3 separate regions of the Homo sapiens genome follow, and all the other regions are linked to region 3. The links come from fine-mapping of genetic effects on gene expression. A gene starts in region 3. Each other region holds a variant in brackets. All regions are shown on one strand. Distances are between the middles of the regions. Region 1 overlaps EYA3 (EYA transcriptional coactivator and phosphatase 3). Region 2 overlaps EYA3 (EYA transcriptional coactivator and phosphatase 3). Region 3 holds the start of EYA3 (EYA transcriptional coactivator and phosphatase 3).

Evidence for each region. PIP is the estimated chance that this variant, and not a neighbour inherited with it, causes the effect.
Region 1: its variant is fine-mapped to the expression of EYA3 in whole blood (TOPMed, PIP 0.98).
Region 2: its variant is fine-mapped to the expression of EYA3 in subcutaneous fat (FUSION, PIP 0.91).

What each region holds. Positions count from the first base shown.
Region 1 is chr1:28,003,698-28,013,906 of GRCh38, reverse strand. EYA3 (EYA transcriptional coactivator and phosphatase 3) reads left to right here. Exons shown (of 18, transcript NM_001990.4): 9 at 613-796; 10 at 2,821-2,960; 11 at 9,488-9,571. Among named protein-coding and RNA genes, the nearest start is that of XKR8, 49 kb to the right of the region's middle. The variant A/G (reference allele first, on the strand shown) is at 5,737.
Region 2 is chr1:28,044,453-28,054,661 of GRCh38, reverse strand. EYA3 (EYA transcriptional coactivator and phosphatase 3) reads left to right here. Exons shown (of 18, transcript NM_001990.4): 3 at 6,236-6,279. Among named protein-coding and RNA genes, the nearest start is that of EYA3, 39 kb to the left of the region's middle. The variant T/A (reference allele first, on the strand shown) is at 4,460.
Region 3 is chr1:28,083,281-28,093,489 of GRCh38, reverse strand. EYA3 (EYA transcriptional coactivator and phosphatase 3) reads left to right here and starts at 4,880. Exons shown (of 18, transcript NM_001990.4): 1 at 4,880-4,966. RefSeq lists enhancers at 4,941-5,010, 5,221-5,280.

The DNA.
Region 1 (10,209 bases), 80 kb after region 3:
ATTTTTAGTAGAAACAGGGTTTCACCATGTTGGTCAGGCTGGTCTTGAACTCCTGACCTCAAGTGATCCACCCATCTTGGCCTTCCAAAGTGCTGAGATTACAGGCATGAGCCACTGCACCCAGCTGATAATCAGTTTTTAAATTAAGACATTTTAATGTAGGATATGTGCTTTTTTTGTTTGCTTAAGTTTAAGTTTTGTTTTGTTGTCCTTAGAAGTGCTATTATCTAGTGCAACAGTTTGTAAACCTCTTAGAGTAGAATCTTTCCCTCAAATTCTGTGCAGAAATTCGGTACATAAAACTGGGGGAAGAGGCTGTTAGAGTACAAAAAGGGACACCATGTGTATGTTTATGAGAGTACAGAAGACCCTTCCCTCTCAGCATTTCCTCATTCCAAGACTGCTCCTGGGACATCTCTTGACTTAGGTTTCCACAGAATGCATTTTGAAAATCATTGATTTAGATTGGAGACTTTTAGGTAGGTAAATGAGAAGTCAAATTAATGTTTTAGAAAAATAATTATGAATAAGAAAGAGGGAGAAGAAAGCCTCTTGTGTTGAGATTAATGTATGCTATAAGAGTCTTGTTTTCTTATTTCCTTTGGCCTGCAGGATTATCCCACCTATACTATTCTTGGTCAGAATCAGTACCAGGCCTGCTACCCCAGCTCCAGCTTTGGAGTCACAGGTCAGACTAACAGTGATGCAGAGAGCACCACATTAGCAGCAACCACATACCAGTCGGAGAAGCCTAGTGTCATGGCGCCTGCACCTGCAGCACAGAGACTTTCCTCTGGTAAGCACCGCAGCTCTGAAAACTTTGGCTTAAGGTCACTTCATCCAACAGTTGTTTTTAGGCAATGGTAAGGATGATTTTGTTCTGTCTTAAGTCATTGTTACCATGCTTTTGGCTTTCCCTCTGAGGTGAGGAGTATTGGAAGCAGGCTGTGAGTCATTGGTAGGCTGAATGTATACCTGATGCTGAGAACGGAACAGAAAAGTATCAAGAACTAAAAGACTCTTTCTGACTCGTACTCTACCCTCCCTGTAGCTTTAACCCACTTGCCACAGGGAGCTTCAGCATGTTATAATATTTTGTAAAAGTTGGAGGACTCCAGTTTTAGTCTTGCGCAGGTTTTGAACTGCTGCTAAGGCCTCAGAGCCATAGTTCTTTCTATGTCCAGGATCCCTTTAAGATTCTGAGGAAAGCATGGTCCTTTTCCCTCAGAGAAATATATACAATTTAACCTACAATTTCAGTATGCTCACAGCTCTGAAGTGTATCAATGAATTACAGTGTCCAACTTAAAAACCTTTGACATAAAAGATTAGACACACATTTAATAAACATATATATACACACACTTTTTATTTATATTTAATGAAAATTTGGTAGTTGGCTTTCACATCATGTGGTTCGAGGAAAGCACTGTTTATCATTGGCACTGATGCATGTTTAGAAACAGTACTATATAACAAGTGAACAGTTTTCTGTGCGGTCACCCTACCAGTCTAATAAGTGGACATACAAATGGTCGCCACTTCAAACTTACATAAATTTGAAATAATTACAAGTGTTGATTAAAAACTAAGGTTTTAAAGTCATTTTTCTAAATATCTTTGTTATAACAATTTTAACTTTTGAATATTGGAGAATTTCAAACATAGAGAAAAGTTGCAAGGCTAGTGTGATGAACACTTACATATCCATCATTCATCTTCAACAGTTATCAACTTATAGACAATTTTGTTTCAGCTATACATCATCTAGCTCCCTCCCCAGATTCCAGGCATTGTTCTCTAAAAGATAAGTATGGTACTTATTAACATAACCACAATGGCATTATCCCATCTTTAAAAGTTCAATATTAATAATGTCTTAATTTTGTATTATCAAGTACCAAAATGTATTTGTATTTCCAGCTTTCTCATAAATGTTATGAGTTTTGTTTCCCTTTTGTTTAAAGTAGGATCCAACCCATTCCACAGTGTATACATATTTCAAAACAACATAAAGCATATACAGTTTTTATCGCATTAGTAAATAGAAATAATAAATAAATAGAAAATTTGAGGAGGGAAAATTAGGATCCAAATATAAGGTCCATAAATTGTGATTGGTAATTATGGGTATTTTGTGTTTCATCTCTATTTTAACCTATAAATCCTCCCGTCTCTTTTTCTCCCCCTTGTAGTTTGTTTGTTGAAGAAACTGGAGTGTTGATCCCATACTGTTTCCCAGTCTGAATTTTGACAGTTATATCCTCATAAGGTGGTTTAACATGTCCTGCTGCCTTCTGTATTTTATAGTAAATTGGTGAATGAACAGTTGTTTTCAACTGTTGGCAATGTATGGAAACATTTTTGGTTGTTACACTAGGTGGGGCGGTGCTTCTGGCATCTAGTGGGTAGATGCTAAGGATACTGCTTAACCAAACATCCTATAATGCACAAGACATCCCCCCACAACAAATAATTATCTGATCCAAAATGTCAGTTGTGCCAGGTTGAGAAACTCTAATCTACAAGTTTGACCATGAAGATTCAGGTTCAGCTTTTTCTTGGCAAAACAACTTCATTGATATTTTCTTCTATCATGGGGTAAGCATATAAAGTCTGGTTATAACTTTTCTGATGTTAGCCAGTGCTGATGCTCAATGCCTAGATGTACACTTCATAATTGCTTACATAAGGTTTAGCTTTCCAACCTTTATCCCTGCATTATGACTCACAAGGGCAGAGAGTCCACTAACCCTCTTCCTGCCCTGATTCTTATAGCCTGTGACTCCTGACAACATATGTTTCACTTTTTCTTTCCAGGAGACCCTTCTACAAGTCCATCTTTGTCCCAGACTACACCAAGTAAAGATACTGATGATCAGTCCAGGAAAAACATGACTAGCAAGAACCGGGGCAAGAGGAAAGCTGATGCCACTTCTTCCCAAGACAGTGAATTAGAAGTATGAGAAGAAACTGATTTAGTTACCTACTTTGTTCTTTCTCACTTCTTAAGTTTATCAAACATGTTTTTGAAGCTCACAGAGATAATGTGCACTATGTTATGTGCCCTTTAATTCCTGAGCAAAATAAACTAAATTGGCCACGTTAAAAGAAAAATGTAAAAAGAACAAATTATTCTGTATATTCCAGAAGAGAACAGAAACAATTCATCATATTCAGAAAGCAGAGGGAGTTACAAGTAAAGTCATACTGTTCTCTATTTAAAATTTTAAAAGGGTCAGGTGCGGTGGCTTACATCTGTAATCCCAGCACTTTGGGAGGCTGAAGCGGGAGGATCGCTTGAGACCAGCCTAGGCAACATAGTGAGACCCCCATCTCTAAAAATATATATATACAAGAATTAGCTGCACACCTGTAGTCCCACCTACTTGGGAGGCTGAGATGGGAGGATCACTTGAGCCTGGCAGGTTGAGGCTGCAGTGAGCTATGATCGGGCCACTGCACTCCAGCCAGGGCAACAGAGTGAGACTCTGTCTCAAAAAGAAAAGAAATTTAAAAGGAAAGGACTAGAGTGCTTTTAGCCAAGTTTCTGTAAGGCGCAAACAGATCTGGTAACTTATTAATGAGACTGGTGCTGATTTATTCTGTAGTGTAAGTACTATATGAGTTTATTATGGACATACATTTGACTTCATCATTAAAGACATAAAGGTCATGCAGAGTGCTAAAATTAGTGGAGTTTTTGTATTATCTTTTTGTTTTCTGTTTTCCGTTTTTCTATAGTGCTATTATGTACTGAGGGGAAAATACATATTTAACTATGAATCCATTGATAAGTGCTCTTAAGACATAGGTGAACTGAGCCTGTATTTGAAGCCTTTTCTCTTTTTTCAGAGGTTTGGAGTGAAGAAGAAAGAAAGAAAAAGTAAATTTCTGATATATTTCTTAGGAAAAACTGATAACTCATTTTTTAATTGTCTAAAATATACATAAAATTTACCATTTTAGCCATTTTTAAGTGTACAATTTAGTGTCATTATACATTCTCAATATTGTCTAACCATCACCACTGTATATTTCTAGAACTTTTTCATGATTCCAAATGAAAACTCTGTACCCATTAAGCAGTAACTCCCCATTCTCCCCTTCTTCTAACCTCTGGTAACCTCTATTCTACTTTCTGTCTTTGACTTCTTATTCTAGATATCTCATATAAGTGGAATCACAGAAAATGTATCCTTTTGTGCCAGACTTATTTCATTTACCATAATGGTTTTTTGTTGTTGTTGTTGTTGTTGTTGTTGTTTTGAGATGGAGTCTCAGGCTGGAGTGCAGTGGCACGATCTCGGCTTACCGTGACCTCTGCCTCCCGGGTTCAAGTGATTCTCCTGCCTCAGCCTCCAGAGTAGCTGGGATTATAGGTGCACACCACCATGCCTGGCTAATTTTTGTATTTTTAGTAGAGACAGGGTTTCAACATGTTGGTCAGTCTGTTCTTAAACTCCTGACCTCGTGATCCGCCTGCCTCGGCCTCCCATAGTGCTGGGATTACAGACGTGAGCCACCATGCCCTGCCTACCATAATGTTTTTAAGGTTCATCCATGTTGTAGCACATACCAGAATTTCATTCCTTTTTATGTCTGAATATTTTATTATATGTATATACCACATTTTGTTTATCCATTCATCTGTTGATGGACACTTGGGGTTTGTCACCTTTGTGCTATTGTGAGTAATGCTGCTTTGACCATTGGTGTACAATTATCTATCTGAGTTCATCTTATCAATTCTTTTTGGTATATATGTAGGAGTGGAATTGCTGGATGCTATTGTAATTCTGTGCTCCACTTTTTGAGAAACCACCAAACTATTTTTCATTGTGGCTGCACGGTTTTATACTCTTACCAGCGATACATAAAGGTTCCAGTTTGTTCACATCCTCGCCAACACTTGTTATTTCCCATTTTTTTGATAATAGCTATTCTAATGGATGTGAAGTGGTATCTTATTGTGGCTTTGATTTGCATTTCCCTAGTGCAGTGGCACAATCTCGGCTCATTGCAACCTCTGCCTCCCAGGTTCAAGCAATTCTTGTGCCTCAGCCTCCTGAGTAGCTGGGATTACAGGCACATGCCACCACGCCTGGTTAATTTTTGTATTTTTAGTAGAGACGGGGTTTCACCATGTTGGCCAGGCTGGTCTTGAACTGCTGACCTCAGGTGATCCACCCACCTCAGCCTCCCAAAGTGCTGGGATTACAAGCATGAGAACCTTTGCCCACTTTTAAACTGGGTTGTTTGGTTTTTCATTGTTGAGTTGTAGGAGTTCTTTGTATATTCTATATTAATATTCTAGAATATTCTAGATTATTAATCCCTTATATTAATCAGATATATAATCTTCAAATATTTTCTCCCATTCTGTAGGTCGTCTTTTCACTCTCTCAATTTTTGTGCTTTGAAGCACAAAAATTTTTAATGTTTAGGAAGTCTGATTTCTATTATTGCTGTGCTTTTGGTCTAATACTTGTTGTTTCTTTTTGTTTTGTTTTGTTTTCTTGGTGTAATACTTAATACACGGTTATGAAGATTTTTATGTATTTTTTCTGAGATTTTCATCGTTTAGCTCTTAAATTTAGGCTGTTCTCCATTTTGAGTTAGTTTTGTATATGGTGTAAGATAATGGTCTAACTTTATTATTTTGCATATGGATATCCAGTTTTCCCAGCACTATTTGTTGAAAAGACGTTCCTTATTGAATGGTTTTGGCATCCT[A/G]TTAAAAATTAACTTATGATGTTGGCTGTAGGTTAAATACTAAAAGAAGGTAAAAAACTAAACTAAAAAAAGAAAAAGAAAAATTGATCATATTTGTAAGGCTTTATTTTTAGACTCTCGGTTTATTTCATTCGTCTCTATGTCTATCCTTATGCTAGTACCACACTGTTTTGGTTACTGTAAGTTTTGAAATCAGGAAGTGTGAATCCTTCAACTTTGTTCTATTTCAAGACAGTTTTGGCTATTTGGGGTTCCTTGAGATTCATAAGAATTTTAGAATGCAATTTTCTATTTTTTTAAAAAACTACTATTGGATTTTGATAGGGATTGCGTTGAATTTGTAGGTTGGTTTGGGTAGTATTGTCTTCTTTACAATATTAAGTCTTCTAATCCATGAACATGGATGTCTTTCCGTTTATTTAGCTATGCCTACTTGGTTAAATTTATTCCTAAGTATTTTCTTTTTGATGCTATCACAAAAGGTTTTTAAATTTCCTTTTCAAATTATTCATTGCAAGTATATAGAAATACAGCTGATTGGCCGGGCGCAGTGGCTCAGTCTGTAATCCCAGCACTTTGGGAGGCTGAGGTGGGCAGATCACAAGGTCAGGAGTTCAAGACCGGCCTGACCAACATGGTGAAACCCCGTCTCTACTAAAAATACAAAAATTAGACGGGCATGGTGGCAGGCGCCTGTAACCCCAGCTACTCGGGAGGCTAAGGCAAGAGAACTGCTTCAACCTGGGAGGCGGAGGTTGCAGTGAGCCGAGATCGTACCACTGCACTCCAGCCTGGGTGACAGAGCAAGACTGTCTCGGAAAAAAAAAAAAAAAGAAAGAAAGAAAGAAATACAGCTGATATCTGAATTTATTTATTAGCTTTAACAATTTTCTCTGGGTTATTTAAGGTTTTCTACATATAAGATCACATCGGCCAGGGACAGTGGCTCACGCCTCTAATCCCAGCACTTTGTGGGCAGATCACCTGAGGTCAGGAATTTGAGACCAGCCTGGTCAACGTGGCAAAACCCTGTCTCTACTGAAAGTACAAAAATAAAAAAAAATTAGCCGGACCTGGTGGTGCACACCTGTAATCCCAGCTACTTGGGAGGCTGAGGCAGGAGAATCGCTTGAACCTAGGAGGTGGAGGTTGCAGTGAGCCCAGATTGCACCACTACACTTCAGCCTGGGTGACAGAGCGACACTCTTTCTCAAAAAAAAAAAAAAAAAAAAAAAAGATTATGTCATCTGCAAACAGATAATTTTGCTTCTTCCTTTCCAAATTGGATGTCTTTTTCCCCTTTCTTGCCAAATCTCTCTGGCTAGAACTTCCAGTACTATGTTGAATAGAAGTGGCAAAAACAGACATCCTTGTCTCAGGAGTAAAACTTTCAGTCTTTCACCACTAGGTGTGGTACTAGTTATGGATTTATTTTTATTTTTATTTATTTTTTATTTATTTTTTGGAGATGGAGTCATGCTCTGTCACCCAGTCTGGAGTGCAGTGGCATGATCTCAGCTCACTGCAACCTCCGCTTCCCAGGTTCAAGCGATTCTCCTGCCTCGGACTCCTGAGTAGCTGGGATTACAGGCGCGTGCCACCACACCCGGTTAATTTTTTGTGTTTTTAGTAGAGATGGGGTTTCACCATGTTAGCGAGGATGGTCTCTATCTCCTGACCTTGTGATCCACCTGCTTCAGTCTCTCAAAGTGCTGGGATTGCAGGCGTGAGCCACCGCGCCCGGCTAGTTATGGATTTTTTATATATGGCCTTTATCATATTGATAACATTCCCTTCTATCCCTCATTTATTGAAAAAATAATAAACTAGGAATAGAAAGGGTGTTGAATGTTGTCAAATGCATTTTCTGCATCAGTTGAGATTATCATGTAGCTTTTTCCCCCTCTGTTCTATTAATGTGATGCATTACTTTGCATAATTTTTTTTTCCAATAAGCCTTTTGCACTCCTAATTAATTTTTTAATGTTGAATGAACCATCCTTACATCCTTATGTTCTGAGAACTAATCTCACTTGGTTATGATGTTTAATTCTTTTTTTTTTTTTGAGACAGAACCTCTCTCTGTTGCCCACACTGGAGTGCAGTGGCACAATCTCAGCTCACTGCAACCTCTGCCTCCTGGGTTCAAGTGATTCTCCTGCCTCAGCCTCCCAAGTAGCTGGGACTACAAGTGTGCACCACCACACCCAGCTAATTTTTGTATTTTTAGTAGAGACGAGGTTTCACCAGGTTGGCCAGGCTGGTCTCGAACTCCTGACCTCAGGTGATCCTCCTGCCTTGGCCTCACAAAGTGCTGGAATTATAGGCATGAGCCACCATGCCCGGCCATGATGTTTAATTCTTTTAATATGCTGCTGAATTTGGTTTACCTCTATTTTGTTTAGTTTTATAGATGTGTGGTTTTTTGGGGGTTTTTTGTTTTTTGGGTTTTTTTTGAGACAGGTTCTCACTTCGTTGCCCAGACTGGAGTGCAGTGGTGTGGTCCCTGCACACTGCATCCTTGACTTCCCACGCCCAAGTGATCCTCCCGCCTCAGCCTCCCAAGTAGCTGGGACTACCGGCATGCACCACCGGAACTGGGTAATTTTTGTGTTTTTTTGTAGAGACGGTGTTTTGCCATGTTGTCCAGGCTGGTCTCAAACTCCTGGGCTCAAGCGATCTGCCTGCTTCAGGCTCTCACAGTGCTAGGTTTACAGGTGTGAGCCACTGTGCCTGGCCTGTTGAGTATTTTTATATTGATTTTCACAAGAGATGTTGGTCTGTAGTTTTCTTACAGTGCCTTAGTCTGACTTTGGTATCAGGATAATGCCTCATTGCATTAGTCAGGAAGTATTCCCTCCTCTTCCTTTTTTTGTAAGAGTTTAAGGAGGATTCGTGTTAATTCTGTAAATGTTTGGAAGAACTCACCATTAAAACCATCTTGTCTTGGGCTTTTCTTTGTTGGGATGTTTTTAATTATGCATTCAATCTCCTTACTCTAGTTATAGCTCTTACCGGATTTTGTATTCCTTCTTGAGACAGTTTTGGTACTTTATGCTATGTATTTCTAGGAATTTGACCATTTCACCTGGGTTATCCAATCTCTTGGTATACAACTGTGCATAGTATTCTCTTGTAATCCTTATTTCTATAAAACTGGTAGTGATGTCCCCACTTTCATTTCTGATTTTAGTCATTTGAATCTTCTTTTTTTTCCCTTAGTCAATTTAGCCAAAGGTTGTGAATTTTATAGATATTTTCAAAGAACCAACTTTTTGTTTCATTGATTTTTCTCTGTTGTTTTTGTAGTCTCTCTTCTATTTATCTCTGCTCTAGCCATTGTTATTTCCTTCCTACTGCTAGCTTTATGTTTATTTTGCTGTTTTTCTAGTTTCTTAAGATATGCAATTAGGTCATAGATTTGGGATCATTTGTCTTTTTTAATGTATGTATAAAATACATATATATATGTAAAATGTAATACATATATATAAAATAAGCTATAATTTTTCCTCTTAGCACTGCTTTCACTGTATTCCACAAATTTAATGTTTTATTTCTGTTTTCATTCAACTCAAGGTATATTCTGATTTCACTTATGATTTCTTCTTTGACGCATTGGTTGTTTAGGATTGTATTGTTTAATTCCTACATATTTATGAATTTCCCAGTTCTCTTTCTGTTATTGATTTCTGGTTTCATTCCATTGTAATTGGAAAATATACTCATTTTTTATATTTTCTTTCCTCAGCGGGTATTTCTGTGGGACTTGGATGAAACCATCATCATCTTCCACTCACTTCTTACTGGATCCTATGCCCAGAAATATGGAAAGGTAATTTGAGTCTTCTTTGTTGTAACTGTCCCTCTTCTGACTATATAGTCAGTCCCTCTTCTGACACATAACAAATTATTTCTCTGCTACCCCTGTTGGCTGGCTTTTCACTTTCCATGTAAAACTTCAACAAATGGCTTGCAAATGGCTTGTATTAGGCAGGCTACATGGTCAGGCAGAATTGATGGTAAAGTGGTAAAGTTAGAAACTACTAGAACCAATGCTGAAAGCTGAAGTTGTAGGAGAATGGCATTTTGTGAAGATTAAAGTATAGAAATGAGGCTCAAAATAGAGCAGAGTCTCAAGATTATATTAATAAATTCCAGAGGCTGATGTCTTATTCCTTAACACACTTTTAACAGCCCAAATTGAGCATTTTATTTAGCCAAATATATGCCAGATATATATAAGTAAAATATATAGATAAAATATCTTTCTAAAATAGATTAATCCCTTTTTAAACTAAATACACCAAGCAAAACTTGTTATATCTTCAGTGTACATATCAGTTTTAACAGAAGGATGGGCTGTTTTGAGACTATTAGGCTGTGTATTTCTATTCTAAATTACCTCCAAGCTCATGTTTTTCAGTTTATATGAATAAATTTTATACAAATATCTGCACCCCAGCCAGGTGC
Region 2 (10,209 bases), 39 kb after region 3:
GTCTCGAACTCCTGGGCTCAAGCAGGTCCCCCACCTTGTCCTCATTTCTTTATATTCTGTTTCAAGCACCTCTCTTATTCTCTGTGATTTTTCAGAGATGATAAACACTGGTTTAGCAATCATGTTTGTTAAGTTACAGGTCTATGGGATAAAGCTTCTGTGAATCTGGAGGGTTAGAACTTATTTAAAATAATTGAGGTGCTTGCTTATAAATATGGGAATAAACTCTTTTTGAAAAATTTAGGTATGCTATTGTTTACATTTTGTAGATTACTCTTCTTGATAGAGAAGACAAAAAGATTTTTTTGCCTCCATCAGAAGTCACACCTAACATGCAGTGGTAGAACAGGAAGTTGTCTCTGCCATAAATATTTACCTCTCTAATAATTTGGAATGCTTACCTCCCTCTCTAGGTCCTGCTTTCCTTATGTTAAGTTCTTGAAGTCAAATTAATAATTAGATAGCTATTAGTAAGCACAGTCAATGAAAATGGCATTAAATTGTTTTTTGTGTGAAATTTCATCTAGGTTATGATCAAACCCTTTACCCCTCTAGCATATGGAATATGACTTTTTAGTAAACAGAACAGTGTCCTTCTGTTTGTTGGACAGTGTTGGATAAATCTTGACATAAACATCCTTTTTATAGTCTCCATGACGACTTTTACCCTACCATTATATTTATTATTGCCAAGATTACAATTTACCTAGCACTAGCATGCTTTTGCCTCTTGTTTAAACCTTCATAGCCATTACTTGTAAGTCATCACAGAGTAATTTCAGAATGACATTTGAGATGCTTAATACAATTTTCTTAACTAGAGAGTCCTGTTTCTTAAGCCTGTCTTGAAATTTCTGGGATTCAACTTTGTTCTTGCTGTCTATGGTAATAACACTAAAATTTAACAATTACATAGCGCTTTGTTTTTCATAAGCAGTTCACTCTTTTCCTGTTTAAATTTCATCTTTACATATTATGTTAACAGTGCACATCCTTAAGTTTATTCAGCCAGCATCCTTGTACTGTTAATGCTGCTGTTTCCTGCTGTTGAAACATGAGCCCTATGAAGTAGGTAGTTGTATCTTCTTTTTTACAGGTGAAGAAACAGATACAGAAAAGACACGCAGTGAATTAACTCTCAGAACTTAGCCTTGAGCCTGGATATTCTGAATTTGTATACTGGGTTTTTTGTTTCCTTGCTGTGTTATATTTAAAGTGTGATTATACATTGTAGCAGAAGCAAAAATAGAATGCTGATTTATGAATTTGTCAGTGCTTCTTTCTTTTTGTGTTATCATTAGCCATTATATGCCCATAGGATTATGTCATTTTTTAAGATACCAGCTTTATTGACATGTAATTTACATATCCTACAATTCACCCTTTTAGCGTATACAGTGCAGTAGTTTTTAGTCTATTCTAAAATGGTTTTGTAACCATTACCAGAATAAATTTTAAGGCATCTTCCTTTTTTCTTTTTCTGTTTTTTTTTTTTTTTTTTTTTTTTTGAGACGGGGTCTCATTTTGTCACCCAGACTGGAGTACAGTGGCACAATCGTGGCTCACTGCATCCTTGAACTCCTGGGCTCAAACAATCCTCCCATCTCACCCTCCTGAGTACCTAGGATTACAGGTGTGAGCCACCACACCCAATTGTTTTTTAAATTTTTTGTCGAGATGGGGTCTTACTCTGTTGCCCAGCTGGTCTCAGACTCCTGACCTTAAGCAATCCTCACTCTGTTGCCCAGGCTGGAGTGCAGTGTCACTATCTCGGCTCACTGCAACCTCCACCTCCCGGGTTCAGGTAGTTCCCTGCCTCAGCCTCCCAAGTAGCTGGGATTACAGGCGCCTGCCACCACACCTGGCTAATTTTTGTATTTTTAGTAGAGATGGGGTTTCACCATCTTGGCCAGGCTGGTCTTGAACTCCTGACCTCGTGATCCACCTGCCTCAGCCTCCCAAAGTGTTGGGATTACAGGTGTGAGCCACTGCCTCCGGCCTATATTTTTACAAGTGATGAGAGCATACATATTCTCCTAAGAGTTTTATAGCTTTAGCTTTTACATTTAGTGCTTTGATCCATTTTCAGTTAATTTTTGCATATGGCTTGAGGTACGAGTTCAGCTTTATTTGTTGAAAAGACTATTCTTCCTTCGTTGAATCATCGTGGCACTTTTGCTGAAAATAATTTGACTGTAAATGTGGTACCCTTCTTGAAAATCAGTTGACCCAACAAATGTAGAGGTCTATTTCAGGACTCTCAATTCTGTTCCAGTGATCCATATATCCATCCTTATGCCAGTACCACACGGTCTTGATTACTCTAGCTTTATAGTAAGTTTTGAAATTGAAAAATGGGGCTGGGCGCAGTGGCTCATGCCTGTAATCCCAGCAATTTGGGAGGCCGAGGTGGGCAGATCACCTGAGATCTGAGACCAGCCTGGCCAACATGGTGAAACCCCATCTCCGTTAAACATACAAAAAAATTAGCCAGGCATGGTGGCACGCACCTGTAGTCCCAGCTACTCGGGAGGCCAAGGCGTGAGAAATGCTTGAACCCAGGAGGTGGAGGTTGCAGTGAGCCGAGATCGCACCACTGCACTCCAGCCAGGGTGACAGAGTGAGCCTCTGTCTTAAAAAATAAAAATAAAAAAGAAATGGAAAAATGTGAGTCCTCTAACTTTGTTCTTTTTTTTTTTTTTCAAGATTGTTTTAGCTATTCTGGGTCACTTTCATTTCCATATGAAATTTAAGATCAATTTGTGAATTTCTTTAATGCAGCCAGCTGGGATTTTGATTGGATTGACTGTAGACCAATTTGGGGAGTATTACCATCTTTACAAGATGAATTCTTCTTTCCCTGGATATGGGGTGTCTTTGCATTTATTTAGCTCTTCTTAAATTTCTTTTAACGTGTATTGTACTTCTTCTTCTGTTAGGTTTATTCCTAAGTTTTTTTGTTTGTTTGTTTGTTTTAGACAGAGTCTTGCCTTGTCACCCAGGCTGGAGTGCAGTGGTGCAATCTCAGCTTACTGCGACCTCCACCTCCCAGGTTCAGACGATTCTCCTGCCTCAGCCTCCTGAGTAGCTGAGATTATAGGCGTGCACCACCACACACAGCTAATTTTTGTATTTTAGTAGAGATGGGGTTTCACCATGTTGGCCAGCCTGGTCTCGGACTCCTGACCTCAGGTGATCCACCTGCCTTGGCCTCCCAAAGTGCTGGGATTAGAAGCGTGAGCCACTGGACCCGGCCATATTCCTAAGTATTTTATTCCTTTTGATGCTATTGTGAATGGATTTTTTTTTTCATTTTTGAATTGTTCACTGCAAGTATATAGAAATATAATTGATTTTTGTATGTTTGTCTTGTATTTTGCTGCCTTGCTGAACTTGTTTATCAGTTCTAGTGGTTTCTTAATGGATTCGTTAGGATTTCTGTATACAAAATTATGTCATGCAAAAAGAGATTCTGATTTTTTCACTTTTAACCCTAACGGAGCTTTTTCAGCTTTATTGCTTTCTTACTTCCTGGCAGCTTGTATTACTGTCCTACTACTGTCCTGGTATGGCCCCAATTCCTTGGATACCAGCTGCTTGTATAATCTATACTGGTTTTGTTAATGAAAATTGTTCTCTGTAGGACTGGTTGCTACTTGAATCTTTGCTCACTTTGCTGTGTAGTTTTCAGTATTCATTATTGCAAGTACTATGTTACTCTGTAAACTCTCCAGAAAATTGTTGCTCAATCTTTGCTATTTCTCTTAACAACCAGGAATCATTTTCTGTCAGTTTCTAGCTTGTATTGTTTGAACTGATACTTCTATAATTGAGTAAAATCTGTCTGTCTTCTTTAGTTAATTTACCTGCCTCTACTGCCTAGTTAGTACATGCTTCCTATCCCTGCCTTAGAGGGGGGCATAATTGCTCAAATCAAGACAAACAATGGGCCATATGAGGTTAAAAACAAAACAAAACAAAAAAAACATTGTAACACCCTTTCCTTCCCCAGACTTTTCTGCTTGGTAGATATGACTTTAGATACATTTTCTCCCTTTCTATTTATGAATATATACTCTGCACTGGGTTGGCACGGTAATAAATTAAAAATGAAGGAGCGTAAAGAAGCATAATTCTTCCTTGAAAGTAAATAAATTTTTGGCCAGGCGCAGTGGCTCACGCCTGTAATCCCAGCACTTTGGGAGACCAAGGTGGACGGATCACTTGAGGCCAGGAGTTCGAAACCATCCTGGCCAATGTGGTGAAACCCGGTCTCTCCTAAAAATAGAAAAAATAGCAAAATTAGCTGGGCATGGTGGTGTGCACCTGTGGTCCCTGCTACTCGAGAGGCTGAGGCACAAGAACTGCTTGAACCCGGGAGACAGAGGTTTCAGTGAGCCGAGATTACGCCATGGCACTCCAGCCTGGGTGACAGAACAAGACCCTGTCTCAAAAAAAA[T/A]AATAATAATAATAATAATAATAATAAATAAAAAGTAAATTTAAAAATGTTGCTCCAGGACCTTTTTTTTAAATCCTTTTTTCTTTTGGAGTTGATTAACTAAATTTGTTGCTCTATACCTCTAATAAAATGAAGACTATGATAAGTTAGACTCCTCAGTGCTCTAATTTTCTTTGTTTAAATTACTGTTTGAAGAGTATAGACTGTTTTGGTTACTCAGCCAACCAGCTCGTAATTACATTTCTTTGATAGCAAAGAGTCTTTGGATGAGCTAAGCATAAATTCATCTCCACTATTGGAAGAATATATTATTATCTGACCATATGTAACTACTATCATCTTTAGGTAGGAAGGGCAGAACATTTTATAAAAAAAGGCTATATTTTGTCATTTGTGAAATTATGGCAGGCAGATAAACTAGATAGTTGAATTTTTCTTGTCTTTAGCCTTATAGTTTCCAGGCAAAACACTGTTTTCCTATATTATCTAGGTCAGATCATATTTCCCTCACCTCTTTCAGTGAGATAGTCGTATACATTGGTAATACAGTTAGATTTTTTTGTCACAGTCTGCATACTATCCTGGAATCCCTCAACCTCCTGGTTGTTTTATGGTGTCTTTTATCATATAGAAGTTTAAAATTTTTGTGTAATCATATCTATTTTCTCCTTTATGGCTTTTGGATTTAATGTCATGCTTAATCAGGATTTGCCCACCTCAAGGTTTCGTTTTTTGTTTTTGCTTCAAATGCTTTAATGTAATTTTTGTTTCAAATTTAGAAATGTTTTTTTAAATTGCCTTTGTTTCTTTATTTTCTCCTTTTTGGTAACTATGAAAATTAAGAGAACATTGAATGGAACACATTTTGACATGCCATAAGCAAGGAACCAAGAATGTCTGGTCATGGTTGTGTATTCTCATGAGGAGTATATGGCCACGACAAATTTTATGGGGCTTGCCTGTATTATTTACCTTGTCTGAAATAGTCAATGTAATATTAAATATCTATGATTCCACCTGATACGCTTGCTTCAAATTATCTAGGAGAGTTTCTGCCTTCTTCTATTAGCTTGAAATACTTTTAAATATTCATAATTTGAATGGCTAAGCATATTAGACATGTTTCTACTACAACCAGTTCTAACCAGAGAGTTCTAAAATCAGATTCTCTGTAATATGAAAACAGAAAAATCCATTAGTATTAACCATTATCTTTCATTTGTGGATTCTTACACTGTTTCAATGGAAGTGCCTTCTCCCCAGAAGGAAATAGAAAATGTGAAATATGAAAAGAAAAAATACAGGGTTAACAATATTTTCTAAATTACTGGTAACCTGATAAGAATTCATATTAATTTTTGACACTAAACTAACTTAAGTATAAAGCCATTTTTGTTAAATAAATGAGTAGATGATACTTAGATTCCCATCTTTACTGTTTGTTTAAATATAATTTGCCTGTTACAGTATAAAACCAACTAGTTTGTATCAAAGCTTGGATACTTTATCCTAGTAAACATTCTGTCTACCTTGAGTAAAAATTCTGGTAAACAGTTTTTTTTTAATCAGAAGAACACTTTTTTCATTAAAAAGAAGAGCTCCATTTAAAAAACAAACTTCATTTCTAGCTCTAAAATATAACAAGGGTTAATTAAATCTAGACTAAACAAAATTAAACAGTTATCCTGTAATAGTTAATAGCCTGTTGTTTGAGTAGCTAAATGATTTAAAAAACAGATCAAGTACATTGATACCTTTGTATATTTATTTTTGCAGGTGAAAAAAGCCAAGATGCAGGAATCAGGAGAGCAAACTATAAGGTATGTAAAGTTTGCTTTCTTTTTAATGAACTACTCATAAGTTTTGTTTTTTTTTTTCACATGCTGATTAGCGTATGGGCATGCTTTGCCCTCTTTTTGGTTCTTACCATCAGCTGTTACATTTTGAAATTATTTGGTTTAAGATTAAAATTTCCTTTCCAAATAGTTTTTTCCTGAAACTTGTGCACTGATTTGTTCTTATGCATTCATTATTTATTCAACAATATGTACCAAACTCATGTTGTATATCAGGCACTGTGCTACATAGAGGAGACTTAATGGTAAAGATGAAAAGCACCATATTCTTCAGTCAGACGTACAATATACAGAATAGGAAGCATAAGCGAAATAAATAAAATCCAAGAGATTTGGTATTAATTACCAAATGGTTATGAAATGACTTAGTCATTAACCCCACTCCTCTTATAGAAAAGAGGAAGCTTGCGCCTGGCACGGTCGCTCACGCCTGTAATCCCAGCACTTTGGGAGGCTGAGGCGGGCAGATCACGAGGTCAGGAGATCGAGACCATCCTGGCTAACACGGTGAAACCCCGTCTCTACTAAAAATACAAAATTATTAACCGGGCGTGTTGGCGGGCGCCTGTGGTCCCAGCTACTCAGGAGGCTGAGGCAGGAGAATGGTGTGAACCTGGGAGGTGGAGCTTGCGGTGAGCTGAGATCGCGCCACTGCACTCCAGCCTGGGCGACAGAGCGAGACTCTGTCTCAAAAAAAAAAAAAAAAAGAGAAAAGAGGCAGCTTGTTTGCACCTCACAGTTTGGCTTCTTCATACCATGGTTTTCAGTTTTCCACAGTTCTTACCTTCTGTCGTTTGTGCACCAACCATATGAGCCAGTAACTGCATCACCTCTACCACATTAATTTCAAGAATCCTACACTTTTACCTCCACACACTATCATCCCGGCTCATTTATTCTAGAACTGCCATGCTAGCCATATGATGTCTTAAACTATCAATTAAATCATCTGTCATCTTTTCACCATCACCCCTTAAAAAGAACTTTAGTTTCTTCCTTATAAGAGACCAACATGGCGGAACCTTGTTTCTACTAAAAACACAAAAATTAGCTCGGCGTGGTGACTTGAGCCTATAATCCCAGCTACTTGGGAGACTGAGGCAGGAGAATGGCTTGAACCCACGAGGCGGAGGTTACAGTGAGCCAAGAATGCGCCACTGCACTCCAGCCTGGGCGACAAAGACTCTGTCTCAAAAAAAAAAAGGAACTTAACTGGCCAGGTGTGGTGGCTCCACTTTTGGAGGTCCAGGTGGGCAGATCGCTTGAGTTCAGTAGTTTGAGACCAGCCTGGGCGACATAGCAAGATGCTGTCTCTATAAAAAACACAAAAACAATTATCCAGGAATGGTGGTGCACACCTTTAGTCCCAGCTACTCGGGGCTGAGGCAGGAGGATTGCTTGAGCCCAGGGGCCAGAAGTTGTGGTGAGCCAAGATTGCGCCACTGAACTCCATCCTGGGTTGGTGGCAGAGCAAGATGCTGTCTCATTTAAAAAAAAAAAAAGAAAGAAAAATAAACTTAACTATAAGATCTACTGTAATTAGTCCCTTACAAACATTCTTAACTTCCTCACTTTTTTCTGTCATACTTGCCTAGCAAAACCACAACCCTGATTAAACCCAACTATCCACCTATTCTGTACTTATTCCCAATCACTTGTACATCGTGAGAGAAAAACACAAAATTGTGCTAACTGTTCCTAGTTTCTATTCATGATAAGATCTAAAACAGGCACTTAGTCCCCCTTCCTGGTATGTCTGATTTCCCAGCCTCTAAAATCATCTTAATTCCTTTATTCCCTCCCTCCTTGCCCCCTACCTTCTCCCTTTTCCCTCCCTTTCCTGCTATTTCCATTCACTCAGCTGTGGATCTTGCTCCCTAGTTCAAAGAGAGATTAGGAACATCTCCCTTCTCTCACCAAATCAACCTACTTAATCTGCTTCTCTTGGATATTGTTTATCTTTCCTCTGAAATTCCCTTGCTCTTATCGAAGGCTAACCTCTCCAGTTGTTTGAAAGAACCCATCACCTTCATCTTTTCCTGCAATTATCTCTTCTTTTACCTTCAGCAATTTTTTTACTATGATAAAATACACACAATATACAATTTACCATTTTAAGTGTACAGTTTAGTGGCACTAAGTACAATCACTTTGTCTTGCAACCATCACTACCATTCATCTCTAGAACTTTATTCATCTTTCCAAACTGAAATTCCATGTTCACTAAACAATATTCTCCACTCCCCCATCTCCAGCTCCTGGCAACCACCATTCTACTTTCTGTCTGCATGATTGTGACTGCTCTAAGTACCTCACAGAAATGGAGTCATACAGTATTTGTCCTTTTGTGATTCATCATGATGTCTTTAAGGTCTATCCATTTGTAGCATGTGTCAGAATTTCCTCTTTTTAAGGCTCAATAATACTCCATTGTATGTCTGTTCCGCATTTTCTTTATCCATTCATCTGTTGTTTGTGTTGTTAATAGTTCTGTTGAATGAGAAGGAGGTATTTGTTGTGCCACTTTATGGACTTGGATGTTGTTGGGTTTTTTTGGTCATTTTATTTTAGAGCAGTTGTTTTTTCATGGTGTATTCATTGTTAAGCAAAATTTATGTTTATATAACTTTGAAAATAATTATATTTTGAGGCAGTATGTCATTTCTCTAAGGATAATAATTTAAATATTTAACAAGTGCTAGAGTTAACTCACTGTCTTGGTGCTGTTGTTTCTATTTATTCTCTAGATGCTCAGTTGAGTATGTAGGGGATGTTGCTATAACATAATATTCTAGGACCATTGGGTTTTAGGAACTGGTCCAGTGGATACTGGATCATAGCAATATCACCAACTTCTAAAATATAAGATCTACAAATAGTCTTCAACAGTGGGTATAACAGTGAACCTCATACTTAACCAGGTACATGTAGAAGTCAAACTAGTTATTGATGTCAGGAAAATTCTGGTTCAGTTTTATGCCCTTCCCCTGGTAATTCTATGTAAGTAGGTGTGAGATGGGGTCCAGAAGTCTATTTTTATTAACTATTCAGGTAATTATAATAAATCACCCAGTTTGGGAAACTGACACAACTATTCCATATAATTTCTTGCCCTTACCCTTCAATTTCCATAATCACATCTTAGTACATTAAGTTCTATTACAAAAATATAAACATTTGAGTAACAAGATAAAAATGAACCTTACTTGGGGATTTAGCTTTAAAATTAATTACAAATGAGGAAAAATTATTTGAACATTCAAAATATACCATTAAAGCTGGACACTGTGGCTCACACCTGTAATTCCAGCACTTTGGATGCTGAGGTGGACGGATTGCTTGAGACCAGGAGTTTGAGACCAGCTTGGGCAACATGATGAAACCCTATCTCTACAAAAATTACAAAAATTAGCTGGGTGTTGTGGCACATGCCTGTAGTCCCAGCTACTTCGGAGGATGAGGTAGGAAGATCACTTGAGCCCGGGAGGTCAAAGCTGCAGGAGCCATGATCGAGCCACTGCACTCCAGCCTGGGTGACCGAGTGAGACCCTGACTCAAAAAAACAAAACAAAAACCAACCAAACAAAAAATATATACCATTTAAAAAAAACCCTTATTATACTTGAATATTAGAAGTCAGTTTCAGAAATGATACGAGAACTTTATAAATTTTGTGCTATATATTTTTTATATAAGCAACATTTCTTTTTACAATTTTGCTGTGTAGAAACTACTCTTACCTTTGATTAGTCAGCATTATCTTTCCAGATATATAGAACCTCTGGTACAGTGTCTTCCACCTCTCCCTAGAGAGTAGAAGAACAAAGCAAGCTTCTTTCTAGGGTGCATGAATGTAGGAATGATGCCTGGGCTTTGAAGAAGTTGTAATATAAT
Region 3 (10,209 bases):
TTTGTCCTTTCTCCCCAACCCTTTATATCCACCATTCTACTTTCCATATCTATGAATTTGACTAATTTATATAACTCATATCAGTGGAATCATATGGTATTTGTCCTTTTGTGAGTGGCTTATTTCATTTAGCATAATGTCCTCAAGATTTATTCATGTTGTAGCATGTGTACATGCTCTTTTTTTTTTTGGTGGAGTCTTGCTCTGTCACCAGGCTGGAGTGCAATGGTGTGATCCCAGCTCACTGCAACCTCCGCCTCCTGGGTTCAATCGATTCTCCTACCTCAGCCTCCTGAGTAGCTGGGACTACAGGCGCACACCACCATGCCCAGCTAATTTTTGTATTTTTAATAGAAACAAGGTTTCACCATGTTGGCCAGGATGGTCTCGATCTCTTGACCTCGTGATCCACCCGCCTCAGCATCCCAAAGTGCTGGGATTACAGGCATGAGCCACTGCACCCAGACAGAATTTCCTGCCTTTTTAAGGTTGCATAGTATTCCATTGTATGTATACCAAATTTGTTTATACATTCATCCATCAATGAACATTTGGGTTGCTTCCATCTCTTAGCTATTGTGAATAGTGCTGTCATGAACATGGGTGTGCAAATATCTCTTGGAGATCCTGCTTTCAATTCTTAGGGATATATACCCAGAAGGGGATTCCTGGATCATACGTTAGTTCTATTTTCAATTTTTTTCAGGAACCACCATATGGCTTTCCATAAGGTTGCACCATTTTACAATCCTACCAACTACTGATTGCTTTTAGAAGGTCAACGATCATGTATATCATAAGAAATTGCCTCAAGTACAATATAGAACATCAACAGAAATAAAATCCAGACCATTGTACTTCATATATGTCAATCAGGAGGGTTTAAATTAATAGCTATTATAAAACACTGATCATACATTCATCATGTCTTTTCAAAATGGAAATATATAAATTAGAGGTCTTATTTTTATTATTTTATTTTATTTTATATATTTGTTTATTTTTCGAGATGGAGTCTCTCACTCTGTCACCCAGGCTGGAGTGCAGTGGTGCCATCTCGGCTTACTGCACGCTCTGCCTCCTGTGATTCTCATGCCTCAGCCTGCTAAGTAGCTGGGACTACAGGTGCCTGCCACCACACCTGGCTAATTTTTGTATGTTTTGTAGAGATGAGGTTTCACCATATTGGCCAGGCTGATCTTGAACTCCTGACCTCAGGTGATCTGCCTGCCTCGGCCTCCCAAAGTGCTAGGATTACAGATGGGAGCCACCGTGCCCGGCCTTTGGATTTTATTATTATTATTATTATTATTATTATTATTATTTTTGAGACAGAGTCTCACTCTGTAGCTCAGGCTGGAGTGCAGTGGCACGATCTCAGCTCACTGCAACCTCCGTCTCCCAGGTCCTGGTTCAAGCAATTCTCTTGCCTCAGCCTCTCGAGAAGCTGGGATTACAGGCACATGCCACCATGCCCAGCTAATTTTTGTATTTTTAGTAGAGACGGGGTTTCACCATGTTGGCCAGGATGGTCTCGATCTCTTGACATCATGATCCACCTGCCTCGGCCTCCCAAAGTGCTGGGATTATAGGCGTGAGCCACCACGCCCAGCCTGGATTTTATTCTTAAATGACTGTAAAGACACTAGAGCACCAGCAAGGTACAGCTTCTGCTCTGGGGAGGAATTTGCATGCTTTCTTGTAGCTCTGTTTTAGAATCATAGCTGTCACATAATGATATTTTGGTAAATGATAGAATGCATATATGATGGTGGTCCCATAAGATTATTTAATATTTTTACTGTACCTTTTCTATGTTTTTATATGTTTAAATACACAAATACTTGCCATTGTGTTACAATTGCCTACAGTATTCAGTACAGTCATATGCTATACAGATTTATAGCCTAGGAGCAATAGGTTATACCATATAGCTTAGGTGTGTATAAGTCCATTTTACGATGTTCGCACAATGATGAAACTACCTAACGAGGGATTTCTCAGAACATATTCCTGTCCTTAAACAGAGTGTATATGTATGTAAATGCTTTAGGCATAACTTTTCTGGAGCTATTGCATTGATTACTCATGGGCTCCCTCTGGTGGAGGTGGTGGCTCAGTTTGCAGGGTTTCAGATCAGGAAAACCAAAGTAAATGAGCAATTTAGCCCTTCATTCAACAAACATTTACTGAGTGCCTACAGTGTGCCAGGCTCCATTCTGGTGCTGAAAAAACATCCGTGAACAAATCGGACAAACATCCATGGACTCATGGAACTTACATTCTGGCAGGGGGAGAGAGACACTAAGCCAAATTTACAAGCAACTTGTTGGATGGGAAAGTACAAAGAGGATGGTAGTGTTCCAATTTTTAATGTAGTGTCAGGGAAGATCTCATTGAGAAAGTGACATGTGAATAAAGATGTAAATGAGGTGAGCGGATGAATGATGCAGGTATCTGGGGGAAGAGCACTCCAGGCAGATGGATTAAAAAGCACAAAGGCCCTGGGCCTACCTGTAGTTTTGAGGAATGGCAGAGGCCAATGTGCTTTAAGGGGAAGGATGACAGAAGGAGTAGGAGTTGAGGTTAGAGCAGAGCTGTACTGGAGGTGTCAAATCTTGAGGGTCCTGTAGACCAATGTAAGGATTTTGGTTTTTACTCTGAAATAGGAATGCATTGGAGGAAGGATATGATCTAATTAGGGTTTTAACAGGAGCCCATTGCTACTATATTAATAGATTGTGGGGGCCGGGCGTGGAGGCTCACACCTGTAATCCCAGCACTTTGGGAGGCTGAGGCGGGTGGATCACTTGAGGCCAGGAGTTCAAGACCAGTCTGGCCAACATGGCAAAACCCCGTCTCTACTAAAAATATAACAATTAGCCGCGCGTGCTGGCGGGCCCCTGTAATCCCAGCTATTCAGGAGGCTGAGGCAGGAGAACCCAGGAGGCAGAGGTTGCACTGAGCCAAGATCAGGCCAGTACACTCCAGCCTGGGTGACAGAGGGAGGCTCTGTCTGAAAAAAAAAAAAAAAAAAAGATTGTGGGAAGGCAAGAGTATAAATAGGGCACTCACAGTCACTGACTGACTGGTTTATACCAACGGAGGCAGTAAATGGTCAGGTTCTGGACAGATTTTGAAGGCAAATCTTGCAGAACTTGCTGATGGAGTACATGTGGGATATGAGAGAGGAGTTAAGGATCTTAGTAAATGATGTTGCTTAGTACATTGTTGTCATCGGAAGAGGTGATCAAATATACAGTCAAAAAATGTAGAAAAAATAGTTTTTTTTCTGGATTTTGTTATTCGTGGTATTTGTGAGCTAATAAAAATGTTTGTAATTTTTCTCATTATAAAAGGTTCACTTTTATATCTAATATTGTATTTGTAATTTTGGATTTTTTTTTTTTTTAGACAGTCTCGCTCTGTTGCCCAGGCTGGAGTGCAGTGGCATAATCATAACTCACCGCAGCCTCTACCTCCTGGGCTCAGTTAGGTGCGTGCCACCACACCTGGCTAATTTTTCTGGGTTTTTTTTGTTGTTGTTTTGCTTTGTTTGTTTTGTAGAGACAGGGTCTAATTTTGTTGCCCAGGTGATCTCCAACTCCGGGGCTCAAGCAACCGGTCGACCTCGGCGTCCCAAAGTGCTAGGATTTCAGGCATGAGCCACTGTGCCTGGCCTTGATTATTTTAAAGAGGGCCCCCAAATTGAATAAACGTCAAGTCTCCACAAAGCCTGAATTCAACCTTGCTTCTAGCCCATACTTGGGTTGTAATTTAAAATTAACGAAACATTTAAGAATTTTGCTTCCGAAAACAGTGTGCACGAAGTGAATTGTAAGCCTAATATAATATTAAGAATAAACTAAATTTGGGGATAAAAAGATCACCTTGGGGCTCACGCCTGTAATCCCAGCACTTTGGGAGGCCAAGGGATCAACCGAGCTCCAGAGTTGGAGACCAGCCTGGGCAACATGGCGAAACCCCGTCTCTACCGAAAAATACAAAAATTAGCCGGGCGTGGTGGTGCGCGCCGGTAGTCTTAGCTACTCGGGAGGCTGAGGTGGGAGGATCACTTGAACCCAGGAGGCGGGGGTTGCAGTGAGCCGAGATCGCGCCACTGCACTCCAGCCTGGGCGACAGAGCAAGACTCTGTCTCAAAAAAAGAAAAAAAAAAAGGGATGGGCGCGGTGGCTCACGCCTGTAATCTCAGCACTTTGGGAGGCCCAGGCGGGCGGATCACCTGAGGTCGGGAGTTCAAGACCAGCCTGACCAACATGGAGAAACCCCGTCTCTACTAAAACTACAAAATTAGCCGGGCGTGGTGGCACATGCCTGTAATCCCAGCTACTCGAAAGGCTGAGGCAGGAGGATCGCTTGAACCCGGGAGGCGGAGGTTGCAGTGAGCCGAGATCGCGCCATTGCACTCCAGCCTGGGCAACAAGAGCGAAACTCCGTCTCAAAAAAAAAAAAAAAAAAAGATCACCTTGGGCTAGCCTCCCAAATGTCTTCCAAAACTTCCCACTCATTCTCCTTCCCAGTTTTTCTAAATCTACCAAATGCACCCAACACTTCTTACGTTCCTTTTAGCCAGGTAGGGATTACGCGCATTTTTAAAGACCTCCTTAAAAGTGAAGGCTGTAGTACCGTCAGGACTGCCTAGCGCTCACCCAGAAGCTGCTTGTCTCCGAGGCACTAAGAGGGGCGTGGCCATGGGCGTGGCTCGCCGGGCCGGCGGAGTGGGCGGAGCCTAAAAGCTTCCCCGCCCGGTCAGACTCAACACATGCGCCCAGAGGTTTCTAGTGGAACGAGGTGTGGATTGTGAGGTGACTCTGGCCGCTTACTTCCGGTTCCTAGCGATGCGCATCCGGGTCACGCTAACGCCGCGGTTTCCTCCGCTCGATTGGTTCTACTGTGGGTCTGGACTGATCTCCATGTCCTGTTGTGGGGCTTTTACAGCCTTTGGGTGAGTCTCAGCTGCCAACAGGGTCTGAGCGCAGCCGGGCGAGCACAGCGTGAAGGGGGATGGGTCTAGAGTTCTGCCTCGGTCCTTGTGGGTGGGAGTCTCTTCGCCTGTCCCTTGTCACTGCAGTGCTTCACTCACCTCAGCCCTTTCCTTCACGCTGGCCTCGCCTTATTCACCTCAGCTTAGCCTTCTCGCGCTTCCGTGCCTCTGTCGCCTCGCTGTTTTTCCTCAGCCTCATCAGTCCTTTTCCAACCTCGGTTTCTTGCCTTACGCCTCAGCGCTTCTCTCAGCCACTGCCTCTCCTTTTTTCTCCTCCTCCCTTCTTTTAGAACCTCTTTTCCCCTACCCCTGATCTGGGATCTCAGCGTTCTTTCACCTAGCGAGACGGCCCAGCTTCTCATTGTGCTCACTCTTCACCACGAGAAACTGAGCCTCTCCCTAGGGTCCTAGTTCCTTGTCCCCCAACTTTCTTCAGCTTTGATCCTTCCTCCTGGGACCAGTAGGTGACAGTGCTTCTCCTGGGGTTCTTCTGCCTGTCCTTAGCTAGAGGAGAGCTTTGCCAAAGCCCCGAAATGGGAAGACTTCCCCAGCCTGGGGGAAGTTTTGCCTTAAGGCGCCGGGTTAGACTGAACTCTGGTAGCTTCCATAGTTAGGGTACAACAAAGGCGTTCCTAGTTCTTCGCTTTACCTCAGTTTTGGGGCTCTCTCAAGAGCAGCTAACAGGTGGCAGGCACACGGTACTGCTAGCAGTTGGGCTGGCGCGATCTTGTTAATTGACAAGTCATGAAGAAGTTCTGTCAGTTTTGTGTTCCCATGAGAATGGATGTGCACAGCTGAGGCAAAAACGCCAATATTTTGGGACGTTCAGCTCTGTTTTCGGCATGGACGCTTCTTACAGGACACTTGTGATGATAGAGGACAGAATTTGTGGAGAGATCATTAGCCCCAGATTTATGAATTTATTGTGTTGTTTCCGAAAAGTGGTCTGCTGAAGAGTTCACTATAGTAATTTCAAAGTAATCTTTAAACTTAGTATGCACATATGCATTTTTTCATTTTTACTGTATTAAGTTTTCTATTTGTCTTCCTCTTCCTTCATTAGCCAGACTTTACTTAGAATTACATTACTTAGAAGTACATTACTTAGAATATTCTTCTAACTTTTGTATTTTTTTTTCCTTACCATTTCCACCTTTGTAGTAAAACTATCATTTTCTCATTTTGAGATTTAGGGCACCTTTCTTAAATTTCCCTAGAGGTTTAAAGTCATTTATAACATGAAGGAATTGCATTTAATAATGGTTAGTGCTCCCTTTCCCAAATTTTGTGATCTAGAGTATAGGCTTGGGTAATCTTTATTTTTTCCCGATGTTTATAGTGTATATCTAGCACTTGATTGCAGCGGTTTTTGTGTCATCAGTTTCTGTAATCTATAAATTGTGCTTTAAAATGTAGTACTTCAGTATGAACTTAAATACAGCTTTGAGCACCTGCTTATCTTTTGGCTAATTAGCTATAGAAAAATCTTCATTATATGATACATATACATATAAGAGTGTATAGTCCTTGGCTTATTCCAAAATTGGGCTCTCTTCAGCTGTTTTTAGCAAAGGACTTTGGAGCTTGGCCATGTTAGTCCTAGAAGCCACGGAGAAGGACCCTTCTGATTGGCTTTCAGGACTTATCTAACTGCTAAGTGAAGCCTCTTTGAAAGTTTCTTATGTGTACCTCCTCCCCACTACCTAGCTCTAGCTTCTGTCCAACCTGGCCTATTTTCCATCCTTCAAAACAAACCCCAATGTGTATGGCTTACTCCAGCTGCTTCCTTACCTTCAGGTTTGTGGGCTTCATTTAAGCCATGGGAATGCCAGCTTAATTAATGCAGATTAAGATAAGAACATTAAACCCCAAAAATGATGGGAAATCACTCTGTCTTCAAAACAATAGAAAATAATAAAATCTAGTTATAAAGATTATATACCATTGTCACTAGTAAGAAGTGGCACTCTTATTTACAAAACATAAAGAAATTAGGGTTTAGGTCTGGCATGGTGGTTCACACCTATAATCCCCAGCACTTTGGAAGGCCAAGGCCAGAGGATTGGCCAGGAGTTCGAGACCAACCTGGGCAACATAGACAAAATTAGCTTGGTGTAGTGGTGTGCGCCTGTAGTCCCAACTACTCAGGAGGTTGAGGTTGGAGGATTGCTTGAGCCCAAGATTTTGAGGTTACAGTGAGCTGTGATCACATCACTGCGCTCCACAAGGCAACAGAGTGAGACTCTCTTAAAAAAAAAAAAGAAATTACAACTTAAACAGTTAATTTCCAAGGTCATTTTTTTTTAAGTCAAGAAGTCCTATACATGCTCTCAAGAGTAGCGAGTGTTAATTCCATTAAAGCTGTAGGCTGGAAAGCACAATATAGTATTTAGTGGGTCATTTCAGTATATGTCATATATGAATGAGACTATTAGGATAAGAAATCTGTGACATGGATTTTAAAATCCAAAGCCGAAGTCATTTTGCCTTCAAAGAGTGACTAGAGAAAGAAACTGTTTTGTGCAGAAGTAGAAGTTGAAAAGTTTTAGGAGTCTTTTGTTCTTCTAAAATGACTTTGGCCTGTATATTCTGCATTGAAGCCATTAAATGAAATGAGCATCCTGTGTAGTCATTGGAGCAGTTGTGTTCCATGCTGCTGATCTTCAAGCCTGACCCTCCACCTAGCTGCCAAACCAAAACAAACAAACAAACAAACAAACAAACCCAGAGACAGCTTAATGTGTGTTTGTTTTTAAAGCTCAGGAAAAAAAATTACCGTTGATTTTCTACAAAAATTTCTACTTTAGTTGGTAGCCCTAAGGGCTCAATTTAAAATATGTTTCTGCATATTAGTTTTAGGCTTACCAAGTTTTCTTATTTTGGTTTGGTTTGATTATTTTTGGTTCTTTTTTGTCATTTTATTTGCTAATGTACTTTGTCTTACTTGTTTTGTTTGTTTGTTTTTTGGTCCTTGAATCCTGTGTTTACGGAGATGTAGTTTTTTGTTTGTTTGTTTGTTTTTTTGAGACAAAAAACAAAACAAAACCTTGCTCTGTTGGCCAGGCTGTAGTGCAGTGGCACGATCTCGGCTCACTGCAGCCCTGACCTCCTGGGCTGAAGTCATCCTCCCACAGCCTCCAGAATAGCTGGGACTACAGGTTCATGCCACCATACCTGGCTAATTTTGAAATTTTTTTGGAGAGGCAGAGTTTCACCATGTTGCCCAGGCTGATCTCAAACTCCTGGACTCAAGCAATCTGCCTGCCTCGGGCTCTCAAAGTGCTGAGATTAAAGGTGTGAGCCACCACCCACAGGCGGCTGATGTAGTTTTGAAAATTTAAGAAACAAAGTATACCTCCAACAAGTCCTTGTCACTTGTACCTTGTAGCATTATGGTTTCTGTGCTGTGCCTAAGCTGTTTCATGACTTCATTTATTTTGTTTTGATTATAAATAAAAGCCTCATGGAACTTCTTTTTAGGTAGCGGTTTGTCCAAAAGATATTTCTGTTCTGCATGTAACAACAGGATACTTTAGCTCATGTATGATTTAAATGGAGGAAGAATAGTTCAAAATAGAAATGTGTATTTTAAAATATTAGGAATAGTCAGCACTTTGGGAGGCCAAGGCAGGCAGATTGCCTGAGTTCAGGAGTTGGAGAACAGCCTGGGCAACACGGTGAAACCCCATCTCTACTAAAATACAAAAAATTAGCTGGGCGTGGCGGCGTATGCCTGTAGTCCCAGCTACTCGGGAGACTGAGGCAGGAGAATTGCTTGAACCAGGGAGGCGGAGGTTGCAGTGAGCTGAGATCGTGCTACTGCACTCCACCCTAGGCGACAGAGCGAGACTCATCTCAAAAAAAAAAAAAAAAAAAAAAAAAAAAAAAATATATATATATATATATATATATATATATATATATATATTTTGGAATAGTCAATGCTTCCCAGATGTTCATCTAATTGGTTTATACCAAAAGGTTGAATTGTTATATTGATAGTAAGGTGGAAAATAGGTGGACTTTCTGTTTTCTAATTAACTTAAAAATACAAGTGCATATTCTTTTACAAAGTGTATGGCTTAAGCTCTAAACTACCCTGTTGATACTGGTATCTTTTACTGTCAGATAACATAGCAAATAATGGAACATATCATCCTTGATATTTTTATTTAGTTCCATCAACCTAAGTTCCAGGGTAGCTAATTATTAAATGTAGAAGTAATTTAGGCATTTTCTCTGTTCTTTATAGTAGTATATTTAAAAACAGCCATTTAAAATATGGGCTTCCTAAAATTTGTCTTTGCTGTTTTCCCATTTAAGTATGCAATAGTATTTTGAATCAGAAAAGGAATGTGTAGTTTAAATAGTGCCAACTTACTGTAAATAAGTTAACAGATCAGCCCAAGGCAGTCAGTGCTTAATATCGTGAAGATCTTACTACAGATTGTTTTGGATGCACTTTAACTTATTAGCTGTGGTTAATGTTTGTAGCAGTTAGATGGTTTTCATTTTCTTCCCTAGAAAATAATTAGCAATACTCTTTGTAATACATTTATTTCAGCAAATATTGTTTAGGCACCTACTGTGTACAGTTACAGTAATACATATTTAGGCTATTTATGTGGCTAGGTAATATTGTACCAGGCTGATATGTACACTTAAATTCTGAATTTGATCTTATTTGTACATTTCTGAATTAAACGTAAGACAACATAATTAGAATTAAATAAACTTAATTAACATAAAATCATGTTCTTTCGTTATAGATACAATCAAATAATTTTCACTTGGGAAACTTTCACAACTGAACCATGAAACTCTGTAGTGGTAAAACAGTAAAAATAAAAGTGAACTTTATACAGCACTTACTATGTACCAGGAACTATTTTAAGTAGTTTACATGTATTAACTCTTTAATCTTTACAACCCTATGAAATAAGGGTACTATTCTTTTTTTTTTTTGAGACGGAGTCTTGCCCTGTCGCCCAGGCTAGAGTGCAGTGGCACAATCTCTGGTCACTGCAACCTCTGCCTCCTGGGCTCAAGTGATTCTCCTGCCTCAGCCTCCTGAGTAGCTGGGATTACAGGCGTGTGCCACCAAGCCCGGCTAATTTTTGTATTTTTAGTAGAGATGGGGTTTCACCATGTTGGTCAGGCTGGTCTTGAACTCCTGACCTCGTGATCTGCCTGCCTCAGCCTCC